Linked DNA regions of Homo sapiens. The protein of the gene in region 1 purifies or fractionates together with the protein of each later gene. This does not show direct contact. Each region holds a gene or a part of one and is shown on either strand. Other genes may lie near its edges. The genes, in order: SCLY and PAK2.

Region 1 (3,820 bases):
AACTCAAAGCACTAAAGCTAAACAATGTAGTCCCCTCTGCTCATTTTCCATCTGCAGTAGTGAGACTCTCAGTGCCCGGGGCAGTCAGCGCCTGGCGCGTAGGAGCGGCTTCATCAGCACTGGCTCGGTGCCAAATGCATGGCAGTGAAGTGCTGTGCACTAGGACCCTCCCCAAAAGCAAGAGCCTGCATCCCTGTTGCCTCTTCCTCTTCCGTCTCCGTAGAAGCAGAAAGGCACACAGCTTCCACGACACAGATTCACTGACTGCAGCCGCGTTAAAGACACGTTCACACTGAAGCACCTGACAGTGACTCTGGGCCAGTGATGATGGGCGGCTTATATTCTTCTTTATAGTCTTCTGAACTTGGACAACAATTTACTTTTATAGTTGTAGAAAACTGTTAAGCTCTGTTGGAACGCAGTTTTGAGAGGAATCAATTTGTGCAGCTCAGTTCGGTACTCATGTTTGTTTCCCAGCGGTCACCTTTGTCCCGGTGTCCAAGGTGAGCGGGCAGGCAGAGGTGGACGACATCCTCGCGGCAGTCCGCCCGACCACACGCCTCGTGACCATCATGCTGGCCAACAATGAGACTGGCATTGTCATGGTGAGTCGGCCTTTGTTTCTCTTTAAGGAGAGCTCATGGGGAAGAACAGCAGCTTAGACTCATGGCGTTTCAGGTTTCCCAGCTCTGGCCTCTCCCGTTTCTCTGTTCACTTTGATAACATTTGGCCTGCGCTCACTACTCCTGATTTCTGTCATTCAGTTTTCATCAGATCGGAGCAACATACTCAACTGTTTCCTTTCCCCGTCAGCCTGTCCCTGAAATCAGTCAGCGCATTAAAGCCCTGAACCAGGAACGGGTGGCAGCTGGGCTACCTCCCATCCTCGTGCACACGGATGCTGCACAGGCCTTGGGGAAGCAGCGCGTGGATGTGGAGGACCTGGGCGTGGACTTCCTTACAATCGTGGGGCACAAGGTAAGTCTGCAGAGGCTTCCTGCCTCTGTGGGCAGAGCCTACTGCGCAGGTGGCTGTTTACTCCTCGGTCCGTAAGCCTCACTGCCCACCGTGAGCCAGGCCTTGGGGGCACTGCGAGGAGCAACGTGGGATCCTTGTCCTCAGGAGCTTTAAGAGGGGAGCCCCACATGGCCAGCATGCCAGGACGAATGCCATGGCAGGGATGATGGGGGGGGTGCCCAGCCCACATGGGGCAGGGTGGGGGCGGTAGACCAAGCTAGGGGAGGAGACGTCGAGATCTCAGGGAGAGTAAGGCAGGGGGTTCGGCCAGGCAGCGAGTGTCTCTGCAGCGGACAGGGCATCTGCAGAGGGTGTGGGGTGGAAGATGTAGGGACAGGAAATCGTTGCTTTCTCTAATGTGATTTCAGATGCGGCTCCTCAGCAAAACCTTTGCAGCTATCTTTAAGGTGGGAGTATGGGGAAAATAGTTAACAGTGAAGACCCTTCTGAAAATTTTGCACATCTTTCTGGCAGCTTACCAGGGCCCGAGATATTTTTAGTACTCAATTTTGAAGCACAGTCCTCAGCTGGTTTCCAAAGGAGTGTCTATGCTGGCCTGACACTGGCACTCCAGAGTTCTGCATTGTGTCAGTTGGAAACATGGAATCATTTGCAGGAAAAGCCCTGGCCAACCGCTGGTTCCAACCCCTCTCTATTTATGCATTCTCTTTCTTTTTTTTTTTTTTAAACCTGTGATTCATATGATTTGAGATCCTTTTACAAATTCTATCACATGATGCGCAGGGGAGAGCTGCCTGCCACAGAGCTGAGCACGAGAGTCTAGCACCTGCGCTGCCTCCTAGGTTGGGGTTCCACCCTGCCCCGAAGGCTTTTGTGACTCTGCGTGTCAAAAGGGGTGGCACTCAGAGGCGCCACAAGGAAGCAGCAGGACTATGCATTGCAGAGCATTTCTCCTGTGTGCCCCTAAGCACTTAGCATGTATACAGAGTAGGTCCTTGGAAAGTTCTTGTTGAATAAATGACCAACTTTTCCTTCCAGTTTTATGGTCCCAGGATTGGCGCACTTTATATACGAGGACTTGGTGAATTTACCCCTCTCTACCCTATGCTATTTGGAGGTGGACAAGAACGGAATTTCAGGCCAGGGTAAGGCAGAAAGTTAACAAAGTCTCTGACCTACTGACCGTGTCATTTGTAGAGCAGTGACATTGTAAAGAAACATGGCGCTGTTTCTTGGTCTCGTGGAGGCTCTGTAGCATGTCCACACTGCTGCTGTGTCAGAACTGGCTCCACTGATTGATTTTACACTGAGGGCTCACAGGACCTGCAGTCTCTTTGGGAATGATTGAAAGCAATGAAGGAAATCTCTGTTTCTTTTAACTGCTCCAATGCATCCAATTCCCCTTGTAATTTTGGCCCAGCCCACTGAAGAGAACTGTTGGACCCTTCATGGCTGAGGCCTGCTGCTGTTTTAACTTCGGGGATCAGCAGGACCACACAGAAGCACTGGTCTCCTTTCTGATAGCTCCTGTGTCCCCTCTATGTATAGTGACGTGTTAACTGGGAAATTAGTTGTTGCCCCCACCACACCTTTTGTTAGAAACTACTTAACAAGAGAGAGAAACAGGAACAGCATGGTGGTGAGTTCCTGGGTTTTCTTTTCACCTTGTGTATCCCACACTTAGTGCTGAAGAAGCCGGCAAACCTGATATGCTAGTAAGGGCAGACACAAAAATGCCCCAACCAAAGCCTGTCCTCTCTAGCCAGTGGACCAGGAAAGGAATGGCCTAGCAAGACAGAAAACTTTGAGACAACACTTGCTTTACTCCAGCCAGATGCTACAGGGGAAATTGTGCTGCCACGCCTATCCACACCTGCAAAGATGGAGTGGGAAACCCAGACTTCCACCAATACAGGCTGTAACAAGGTATCCCACACCACCACCGGGTGTGTCAAGAAGGCCAGGTAGAGAACCGGGACTTAGGCACTCCCACCATGGTGTCAGTAGAGACCATATCGGGATCTTGGACCCACACCTGTCAGTCACAGGGAGCGTCCTCCCATTGGGTGTCAACATCAGCCAAGTAAAAAATCTAGATGTTGGCCAGGCACAGGCTCATGCCTGTAATCCCAGCACTTTGGGAGGCTGAAGTGGGCAGATCACTTGGGGTCAGGAGTTTGAGAGCAGCCTGGCCGAGATGGTAAAACCTTATCTCTACTAAAAATATAAAAATTAGCCAGGTGTGGTGGCGCATGCCTGTAATCCCAGCTACTTGGGAAGCTGAGGCAGGAGAATTGCTTGAACCCGGGAGGCTGAGGTTGCAGTGATCCGAGATGGCACCACTGCACTTCAGTCTGGGTGACAGAACAAGACTCTGTCTCAAAAAAAAAAAAAAAAAAAAAAAGCCCAGCACGGTGGCTCACTCCTGTAATCCCAGCACTTTGGGAGGCCGAGGCGGGTGGATCACAAGGTCAGGAGATCGAGACCATCCTGGCTAATATGGTGAAACCCCATCTCTACTAAAAGTACGAAAAATTAGCCAGGCGTGGTGGTGTGTTCCTGTAATCCCAGCTACTCGGGAGGCTAAGGCAGGAGAATCATTTGAACCCGGGAGGCGGAGGTTGCACTGAGTCGAGATCGCACCACTGCATTCCAGCCTGGGTGACAGAGAGAGACTCCATCTCAAAAAAAAAAAAAAAAAAGAAACCTAGACTTCTACTTCCACTTGGCAGTGATGGTGGCATACCCCTTCTCCTGCCAGCACAACGTCAGAAAATGGCAGCCCAAACAGAAAGATTGAATAAGATCCAGGTTCTCATAAAGTAAGGCAAAAATGTCCAGG
Region 2 (3,465 bases), on another chromosome or scaffold:
CATCTTATCATAGATATAGTGGAAATAAAATAATGGAAATAAAACCTGCCAGTTTCTCCAATGTATACTACAACAGCAAAATTATTTTTTATTCATGATTTATACTACTGCAGGATGGCAAGCAGGGGGGAAGTTAATGGGGGAAGGGGATGGTGGGAACAAAATGCCAGAACCAAACCACAGATACTTGAACAACACCCACTCCAAAAGCAAAACAATGAATAAAGGAGAAGAAGAGGAGAGGAAAAAAGAGAAGAGAAAAGGGAGGGGAGGGGAGAAGGGAGGGCACTCAAATAATTAATGCTACAGGTCTCAGACCTTTTAGAATCTTTAAAAGAAACAAATTATTGCTATCAACACGCACATTTCATTTTCCTTTCTCGTTTTTTACAATAGTCTCTACTTATTTGAAAAAACAAAACAAAACTAAACTAAAGTAACTCAACATCTCAAATGATCTATAAATTCATCAAGAAATACTCTGTCGCTCAAGTTCTCATAGATAATACCACACTGCTGACGACCTGGGGCAATGCCACCGCCGCCAAGTCTCTACAGTCGATTTGCTATCGGCTGCTTCTCTGTAACACTAACATTCTCTTTCATGAGTATAATCTCTTCTCACTGTATCAGAGCTCACCAAGGTTCACATCTCTTACTGCCTCTGCTGCTAGTCCCAAATATTTTTCTCCTTTAAGTGGAAAAAAGCTAATTTTTAAATTCCTGAAAATTCACTGGTTATTATATTATTTGCCATGGGAGGGGGTATCTGTGAGGTGAGAGAGGATTAATGAAAAAGAAAAAGAACAAACCTAAACCTAAAATTGCAACATATACAGAAATTTATTTCCAAATTGAAGGGGGAAAGGAGGGAAGAAGGTAGTGGCACTAACCAAAGTCACAAAGCCCAGGTTGGAACAACAACAAATCACTTTGGTTCCTAGAGCCAAGCCTGAAGGGGAAACAGGCAGAAGGGAAGACAAAATGGGAAGAAGTCTACAGTCAATGGGAATCTTTTTCTATCTCAATGATTTAGTTATAAATAGAGATTATTAGTCTTCTCTCTATACATGTAACAAATGCCGAACTTACTACCACGAAATTTCTAAAACTGACTTTTTCACATTTGTTAAAAAAGGTAAAAATCACATACTTTTCTTCCCTTCCTTCAGGTCAAGTTCTGAACTAAAATATTACATGTAACAACAGCTGGTCCTAACTTTTATACAAAGTGAAACTATATAGAGCTCCTTTGCCAACATAAGGAGCTACATAATTTCTATTACACTTGCCTAGGCATGAGAAACGCAAAAGCAACTCAAAAGGAGCAAGTCCAGGAAAAGAAAAGCTATGAAGGAGAGAAAGACTAGCAGATGAAACACATACTCTGAAAAACTCCAATCTGCCATTCAAGTATTGGAAATACCCCAAAGGGGACAATGAATGGGATCTATTACAACAAAGTCAGCAAAGTAAAATGCAAATCTCACACATGATAAATGGCCCTGATAGGCTGTTTGCTGAAAGACCTAAGGCTAGTGATTCAGTCCACAATTCCTTCTGGACCCTAAAGAAGGGGTTCATATAAAAGTCATACTTGTCTTTTTGCAATTTTCTCTTGGTTGTCTTCAGAGAATAGTCATTTGCTTCTTTCATTCAGGTTATGCAGACCATTTCTTTAAACCCCAAAAAGAGTAATAATTTTCATATACTAAAAGGCTTCTTGTAGAAAATGGAAAAAAGAGTATGAGGCCACAGCAGTGATGTTAACGGTTACTCTTCATTGCTTCTTTAGCTGCCATGATCAGTGGTGTCAAGCTAGATAACGGTTTGGCCAGTTTCAGGAAAGGATGCTGCCAGAAAGAAGGGGAAAAATAAATGTATAAGTGCCATTCATCAGGTTAGAAACAAAATAATTTTGTTCAATTAAGCCCCAAAGACTACTTGTCGATCATAATTTAATAAACTAAACACATATTAATACCTTCATAAGACTAACATAATCAACGCATTACTTTCAGAGTTGAATGAAAGCAGAATCATTTTAGTTTGACAAATATACACACAACAGCAATAAACAGGTCTGAGGAGTGATACGATGCACAAACTGTAAACAGGTCTGAGGATTGATACGATGCACAAACTGTAAACAGGTCTGAGGATTGATACGATGCACAAACTGTAAACAGGTCTGAGGATTGATACGATGCACAAACTGTAAACAGGTCTGAGGATTGATACGATGCACAAACTGTAAACAGGTCTGAGGATTGATACGATGCACAAACTGTAAACAGGTCTGAGGATTGATACGATGCACAAACTGTAAACAGGTCTGAGGATTGATACGATGCACAAACTGCACATTACGGTTTTGTCAGAATTTTATTCACAGCAGATGAAACCCTCACTTTTTTTTTTAATACTTTAAGTTCTAGGGTACATGCGCACAACGTGCAGGTTTGTTACATATGTACACATGTGCCATGTTGCTGTGCTGCACCTGTTAACTCATCATTTACATTAGGTATATCTCCTAATGCTATCCCTCCCCACTCCCCCCACCCCACAACAGGCCCCGGTGTGTGATGTTCCCCTTCCTGTGTCCAGGTGTTCTCATTGTTCAATTCCCACCTATGAGTGGGAACATGCAGTGTTTGGTTTTCTGTCCTTGCGGTAGTTTGCTCAGCATGGTAGGATGAAACCCTAAATTGCAGCAGCTGCCATACCGCTGGTGATCAATGAGTAGTGAAATCTACTTATTAGCCCTAGGAAAGCTTTCTGTCGGTTACCAAAAAAGTCAACTATTCCCCCAAATGAAATCATTTTTAAATTTACCTGTAATAATTCTTTGGCTGAACCCCTTTTTTCCACATCCATTTCCAAACATCGATTTAAGAAATCCCGAAATATTGGGGAAAGTTTCTCTGGATTCTGAAGTTCTGGGGTTCCATTAGTTGCTATTAGGTACAAGGCCTAAAAATAGAAGAACATCTTTGATCCACTTAAGATAGCTCAACACGGTCACAGAGCACTCCATAAAGTCTAAGGGATTCTTTCTTCTTTAAAGAAAATCACCATAAATACTAAACTGGGGTTATCATTATCCCATTTAAATTTAGATTTGATACTTTCCTCTTATTTTTAGATGTTACATTTCCTTAAGTTACTTTTCTGAAATCAGATTCACCTTTGGTTTTTCTTCGGTTATAAATGCAATACATATTGCTTTTGTTTTGTTTTTTTTTGTTGAGACGGAATCTTGCTCTGTCACCCAGGCTGGAGTGCAGTGGTGCAATCTTGGCTCACTGCAACCTCTGCCTCCTGGGTTCAAGTGACTTTCCTGCCTCAGCCTCCCGAGTAGCTGGGATTACAGATGCATACCACCATGACCTGCTAATCTTTGTATTTTTAGTAGAGGTGGGGTTTCATCATATTGGTCAGGCTGGTCTTGAACTCCTGACC

The links.
Region 2: the proteins of SCLY (region 1) and PAK2 fractionate together in Homo sapiens (co-fractionation; one large-scale study listed by BioGRID). This does not show direct contact.

The regions. Positions count from the first base shown.
Region 1 is NC_000002.12:238,081,232-238,085,051, forward strand, and holds part of SCLY (selenocysteine lyase), read left to right. Parts: intron 1-477; coding exon 478-605; intron 606-813; coding exon 814-978; intron 979-2,016; coding exon 2,017-2,123; intron 2,124-3,820. UniProt on the Homo sapiens protein: Catalyzes the decomposition of L-selenocysteine to L-alanine and elemental selenium.
Region 2 is NC_000003.12:196,826,707-196,830,171, reverse strand, and holds part of PAK2 (serine/threonine-protein kinase PAK 2), read right to left. Parts: intron 2,977-3,465; coding exon 2,839-2,976; intron 1,854-2,838; coding exon 1,767-1,853; 3' UTR 1-1,766. UniProt on the Homo sapiens protein: Serine/threonine protein kinase that plays a role in a variety of different signaling pathways including cytoskeleton regulation, cell motility, cell cycle progression, apoptosis or proliferation.